Linked DNA regions of Homo sapiens. The protein of the gene in region 2 interacts with the protein of the main gene of each other region in a biochemical or structural test. Each region holds a gene or a part of one and is shown on either strand. Other genes may lie near its edges.

What was found. Proteins that work in one complex are often made in the same cells at the same time.
Region 1: of the proteins of CREB1 (region 2) and RPS6KA5, one has a biochemical effect on the other in vitro, tested with the Homo sapiens proteins (3 studies listed by BioGRID, with this or other methods).

What each region holds. Positions count from the first base shown.
Region 1 is NC_000014.9:91,053,888-91,057,641, forward strand, and holds part of RPS6KA5 (ribosomal protein S6 kinase alpha-5), read right to left. Parts: intron 1-3,754. UniProt on the Homo sapiens protein: Serine/threonine-protein kinase that is required for the mitogen or stress-induced phosphorylation of the transcription factors CREB1 and ATF1 and for the regulation of the transcription factors RELA, STAT3 and ETV1/ER81, and that contributes to gene activation by histone phosphorylation and functions in the regulation of inflammatory genes.
Region 2 is NC_000002.12:207,602,880-207,606,560, reverse strand, and holds the end of CREB1 (cyclic AMP-responsive element-binding protein 1), read right to left. Parts: 3' UTR 573-3,681; downstream 1-572.

The sequences.
Region 1 (3,754 bases), on a different chromosome or scaffold from region 2:
AACCAAAACAATGTTGAAGAATAAGACTCACACTTCTCAATTTCAAAACTTACTAAAAAACTGTAGTAGTCAAGACAGCATGGTACTGCTATAAGGAGAGACATATAGATCACTGGAAGAGAACTGAGAGTATAAAATAAATAAACCCATACATCTATAGTCAACTGATTTTCAATAAGGGTGCCAAGACATTAAAATGGAGAAAAAAATAGTCTTTTCAGCTAATGGTGCTGGAACAATTGGATATTTACATGCAGAAGAATGAGTCTGAATCACTACCTCACATGATATCCAGCAATTACCTTAAAATGGATCAATGATCTAAATGTAACAGCTAAAGCCATAAACTCTTAGAAGAAAACAGAGACATCAATCTTCATAATCTTGAATTAGTCAATGATTTCTTAGACACAAGAATAAAATGAAAAAGAAAAAAAAAAGGTTTCATCAACATTAAAGACTTTTAGGGCCAGGAGCGGTGGCTCACACCTGTAATCCCAACACTTTGGGAGGCTGAGGCAGGTGGATCCCTTGAGGACAGGAGTTCAAGATCAGCCTGGCCAACATGGTGAAACCTCGTCTCTATTGAAAATACAAAAATTAGCCAGGCATGGTGGCACTCGCCTGTAATCCTAGCTACTCAGGGGGCTGAAGCATGAGAATTGCTGGAACCCAGGAGGCAGAGGTTGCAGTGAGGCAAGATCATGCCACTGCATTCCACCTGGGCAACACAGCAAGACTCTGTCTCAGAAAAAAAAAAAAAAAAAATTAAAGACTTTTAGGCCAGGCACAGTGGCTCACACCTACAATCCCAACACTTTGGGAGGCCGAGGAGGGAGAATCACTTAAGCCCAGGAGTTCGAGACCAGCCTGGGCAACATAGCAGGAACCCATCTCTATTATTTAAAAAAAAAAATTTTTTTTTAATTAAAGACTTTTGTGCTCCTAAGGAAACCATCAAAAAAGTGAAAAGACAGCTCATTTATGGAGGAAAATATATGCAAATCCATATTCCTGATAAGAGACATGTACCTAAAATACATAAAGAACTCTCATATCTCAATAATAAAAAAAGACAAACTAGCCAATTTTAAACTGGGCAAAGGATCTGAATCAAATTTCTCCAAAGGTATACAAATGGCCAATAAGCACATGAAAAGATGCTTGTCATTAGGCATTAGGGAAATGGAAAATCACTTCACACTCCCTATGATAAGCAAAAAGACAGACAATGTTGGTTAGGCTGTGAAGGAACTGGAGGCCTCATAAATTGCTGATGGGAATATAAAATGATACAGCCACTCTGGACAACAGTTTGGCAGTTTCTTACAAAGGTAAACCCAGACTTTGTTTAGCTTTGTTTTAACAAGTGATCCAGCAGTTTTACTGCTGTTACATACCCAAGAGAAATAAACATAGGTCCACACAAAAACTTGTCCACAAATGTGCAAAGCAGCATTATTTACAATAGCCAAAAGGTGGAAACAACCCAAATTTCAAACAAGTGGTGAATGCATAAACAAAACTTGGTATATCTATACAATGGAACACAATTTATCAACAACAACAACAAAATGAAGTACTGATGCATGCTACAAATGGATTAATTTTGCCGGGCAGGTTGGCTCACACCCGTAATCTCAGTACTTTGGGAGGCCCAGGTGGGATGATCTCTTGAGCCCAGGAGTTGGAGACCAGTGTGAGCATAATGAGATCCTGTCTCTACAAAAAAATAATAAATTAGCCAGGTGTGGTGGTGCATGCCCGTAGTCCCAGAGTTACTCAGGAGGCTGAGGCAGGAGGATCTCTTGAGCCTAGGAGTTTGAAATTATAGTGAGCCATGATCGCACCACTGCACTCCAGCCTGGATAGATTCCGTCTCCAAAAAAACAAAACAACAACAAAAGACATGGCATGGTAGGTTCCACCTCGCTGTCTCTCAGATCACTTGTTTTTGGGGAAACCAGCTGCCTGTCATGAGAATGCTCAAGCCACGCTATGGAGAGGCCCACATGGCAAGGAACCTGCCAACATGTGAGTAAGCCATCTCGGAAGGGGAATCACTAGACCCAGACAAGTCTTCAGGTGACTGCAGTCCTGGCCAACACCTTGACTTCAACTTCATGAGGGTCCCTGAGTTAGAATCAAGAAGCTTCCTGTGTTAATTCACTTAGGATTAAAAAAAAGAACCAATAAGCTAAGCCACTCCTAAATTCCTGACCCACACAAATCATGTTGTTTAAGCCACTAAGGTTTGGAATAATTTGTTACACCACAATACATAAACTTCCTCGACCTTCTCCTCAATGTTAGGCTCTCTCTCCTAATAACAGGCATCTAAGTAAATGTCTTCCCAGCAACTCCTCCTCTTCTTAGAGTTTAGTTTTATCCCTATCCATGTTTACAGAAATTGCTGCCATGTTACAAAAACATGATCCCATCCCCTGGCTTTAGGTGAATGATCCAAAAGTGGATACCTCACCAAAGGCAGGCCAAAAAAGTCCTTCCCTGAGATCTTTATAACTGAAGCTGAGAAGGCGGCGGTGTCTTTTCAGTAGTGGAAGCTGTAGGATGTAAAACTTGCAGTCTATCAACAGCATGATCTTTCCCATGTGGGAAAAGTGGCACAGTAGTGGGGAAGAATAAAGCCATCACATAGTGACAAGCAGAGATTCAAGGTGGACAAAATACAGACAATGCTAAGTTTCTGCTTCCAATGGTTCCTGATGCAACCCAGTTCTTCCAGTGGACAGACCATACATGTCCTATCATCCAAGCATCTAAAATCGCACCCAGTATGTAAGAGGAAATAAAATACTTACTAAATAAGTGGGTAAGATAACCCAATCTCCTTCCAATAATATCCTTTTTGTTATTGTTGTTGAAGATTTGATTATTTGAAAGCTAAAAGTCCTAACCCATTCTTTGCTAACTTTATACTTGAATATCCCTTTACTGTTATACTTAAGGCAGTATTATCTTTTTTTTTTTTTTTTTTTTTTTTTTTTTGGAGATGGGAGTCTTGCTCTGTTGTCAGGCTGGCGTGCAATGGCATGATCTCGGCTCACTGCAACCTCCGCCTCCTGGGTTCAAGAGAACCTCCTGCCTCAGCCTCCCGAGTAGCTGGGACTACAGGTACGTGCCACCATGCCCAGCTAATTTTTTGTATTTTTAGTAGAGATGGGGTTTCACCAGGTTGTCCAGGATGGTCTCCATCTCTTGACCTCGTGATCCACCCGCCTCAGCCTCCCAAGGCAGTATTATCTTAATTACTGGTTTATATGGCCTCCTCCCCTACTACTAGAGGGCGGGACATTTTCTTAGACATACATTCAAGAAATGTATGTTTAAGTGATCTGTTCAATCCTATACTCTGCATTCTTCAGCTTTTACAGTCACTGTCATCCACTTATCAACCACCTAACATCTGCAAGGCACTGGTAATACAATAAACTTACTAGACTTGCTCCTGGATTCTCATGCATTCAGTGAATCCATTCAACAAATATTAAGTACCTACTATATGCCAGGGGCTGCAAATAAACAAAGGACATGGTGTCTGCCTGCCTGCCTGCCCTCAAGGACCTTACAGTCTAATCTGTATTAGACTGTAATACAAGTAAATGGACTATTATAGTACCGTGTGTTAACTGTTACTGAAGAGATCCACACAGGCTGCTGAGCAGCCGCAAAGATTATGGCGAATTTACACTCTACATGAGAAGACTGGACATATACAGAAAAAGATAACAGC
Region 2 (3,681 bases):
TATCTTAGCACTGACATAAACAGCATGACACCGGACAGTCCTTAGCTCTGTTTTACCTTAAAACTTGAAGTTTTTTTTGAGACGGGAGCCTTGCTCTGTCGCCCAGGCTGGAGTGCAATGGCGCAATCTCGGCTCACTGCAACCTCCGCCTCCTGGGTTCAAGTGATTCTCCTGCCTCAGCCTCCCGAGTAGCTGGGATTACAGGCGCCTGCCACCATGCCTGGCTAATTTTTGTATTTTTTAGTAGAGATGAGGTTTCACCATGTTGGTCAGGCTGGTCTCGAACTCCTGACCTCAGGTGATCTGCCCTCCTCTGCCTCGGCCTCCCAAAGTGATGGGATTACAGGCGTGAGCCACCCGCACCCCGGCCCAACTTGAAGATTTAATTGTTAGCTTTCTGCTCTAAAATCATGTTACACCTTTCCTTCTACAACCAGAGGGGTTAAAAATTTAGTAACACTAGAAAAGATGGCATATTGAAAACTTGTTTCTTTGCTAAGAACAGTTATTTCTGAGGATATTAGAAAGAAAACAGTATTAACAGAGATGAGAAAAGGAAAGCCTTATGAAAGTCTGTGCCACTTCTAATTTTAATTCCAGAAAAAAATGCCTAGACTGTAAAGTTTGACATAAAAATAGTAATCAACATAAGTTAATAAAAATTGCTTAGCAGATACCTAATAATCATTAGGAAACAATATCCAAATATGAAGAAAACCATAATTCAGAAATAACTTTTACTTCTCAGTATCCTGGAGATACAACTTGTGTAGACCTAGTTACCAACCTCTGTATATCTGTAACAGTAAAAAATTTCAAACAGCCAAATGTCCCCAGAAGAGGACTGGTTAAACTGTATCTGTACAATGGCAGCAGTTTATAAACCACTGTTTGTACCTACCTTTTGTGTAAAAAAAGGGAGAGGGAGGAGGAGAGAACATACATTATATTTGTGTATATATGCACAGACTGTCACAAAAAACATAACACAAAAAACTTCTTACAGTTTGCCCTTTTCCATGTTTCTTTTTTTTAGAAGTGTACATATTACATAAAGTAAGTTTGAAAACAATGAGGACATTATAAAGCAAAAACTTATAGGCGAAAATATTATAAGGGCCTAGTACCCAGAATATATAAGGAACTCAGAACCCAACAACAAAATTTCAATGAACAAAGGACCTCAACAGACATTTCTTCAAAGAAGATACGCAGATGGCCAAAGACAACAAAAGATGCTCCACATCATTAGTAATCAGGGAAATGCAAATCAAAACCACAATGAGAGACCACACCCATGAGGATGGCTATAATTTTTAAAATGGCAAAATAAGTGTTGGTGAAGGTGTGGAGAAATTGGAACCCTCATACATCAATGGTGGAAGGTAAAACGGTACAGCTGCTGAGGGAAAGTTTGACAGTTCCTCAAAAAGTTAAATGTGCGATTTCAACATGACCCAGCAACTCCACTCCCAGGCATATACCCCAAATAATTGAAAACACGGACTCAAATACTTGTACACGAACATTCATAACAGCACTATGAACATTAGCCAAACAGTAGAAACAACTCAACTGGATGAATCGATAAACTTGTGGTATATATCTACAATGGCATACTTACTATAAAAAGTATACTTAGCTATAAAAAGGAATGAAGTAGTGATAACATGTTACAATGGATCAACCTCAACAACACATTAAAGCTAGACGAAAGAAGTAATACACAGTGTATGAGTCTCACATGAAATACCCGGATGTAAATCCAAAGAAACAGGAAGCAGATTGGTGGTTGCCAGGGACAAGGGCGGTGGGAGGAGAAAATGGAGAGTAACGGGACTTTACTTTTGGAGTGATGAGAATGTTTTGGAGCTAGATAGAAGTGGTGGTTGTACACCATTGTGGATGTACTACCACTTAATTGTTCACTTAAAAAGTTAATTTATGTGAATTGCATCTTAATTAAAAACAAGGATAACATTCCAACTCCTGGACATTATCCTTCCTTTCCATTTGATGTCAGGCCCGTGTTAGAATTCTCATCCGGTTTGGTCACTGCACTTAAGAAAGATGTGGAGAAATTAGGACGCACAGTTAAGAAGAAGGATAACACTGATTAAGGTAGTGCTTTTCTAGGTTTCCCCTAAACAATTTAACAGATGGATAGTGGCACCACTTACGAGATGGAAAAACCAGCGGAAGGAAGATTTGGGGGAGAAGTTAAGTTTGTCTTGGGCCTGTGTTTTGCAACCTGAGTGTAAAAGACATATGTTAAGTCTTCAGTGGCGAAACACTAAAACTAGAAATGGATCAGAATTTTATCTTTGGATGTGACTTCTCAAGGATGGTCTTGTCACTTCAGTGCCTGGTCAAATGACAAGATGGGCAATCTTTTCCTGAAGGTCCAAGCACCTGAACGTGGCAGGGTGACCCGATTCCGATTTGCTTAGAACAATCCTAGTTCATGCCTATTGTCCCTCATGTAATTAATATCACTCTCAAAATGTCTCATTTTGTGCAATAAATTCTGTAATCGTTGTTGCAGAAAATAAATGAAATTCATTAAGCCTTCCAATACAATGGCAGGTATAGCAGGCTTGAACACATCTTGGCAGTGAAGAAACATACAAATAATGCAGCTGCTTATTTTCAGATGTCTCGTCTCAGAACTTATTTCAGAAGTTAATAGTATAGGAGATAACTTTTTTATTCTTACAGCTTAAGCAAAGATTAACCATATCCCCTCCCCTTTCCTTCCAATTTATATGATCACAGAGTTTTAGAATTGCAAGGGGACCTGAGAAGGTATATAGTCTTATTGTCCTTTCAGTGAACACGTGTTTTATGACATCAGACACAGCTGGTCGTATGTCTCCATTAGTCATCTTGACAGTAACATCTCCAAATCCACAAATAGGCACTGTTCAATCTTATTGAAAAACAGGTTTTGTCCTGAAAATTAGGGATCCAGTAACTGAAGACATGTTGTTGTCTGAATTAGTTTTGCTGCCTTCCAACACAAGCTTGTAATATATTGTAACTTTAAGTCCAATAAAACATGGCTTCACACTACTAGCAAAAAAAACCCAACAAAATATAGAGATCCCATCCCCAAAAAAGAGACTTACAGAGTTTTTAAAAGCATGTTTATGTGACTGCACATAAATGTTTGTGTAAAAAGAGCATTATGACAGTTGATACCACAAAGATTACAGTAAGAAAAAGCACTTTATGACAATATTTCACAAATTCACAAGGATCACTTTAATATACAAAGCAACTGCTACTATTCTGAACACAAAGCAGCTATTATGTACATAGTGTTAATAAAATGCATTGTAACTCAGTACATTTTTTTCTTTACACATAAAGCACAAAAAGATTTAGATAAAAAAATTAAAACAGGGATGTTTCTAGAATGTAGGGAATTTTATTAGAAATGTATTTCCCTCATTATAGTTATTTATTTAGTATTCAACTCCAATAGAAACATCAGAGTTAAAAATCAATACCCTGTTTTGTGCTGACAGTTGTGGGGGAAGTCTTCTTTACCCCAACCCTCAAAAACCAAAAAGCCAAACACCTTTCTAGGAACTTCCCTGATTATTTTGCTTCTAAAAAGTTTCAAGTGATACATCTGGGTTAGAAATAATTCCTTTTGCAGGGAGTGGGGGAGTTACA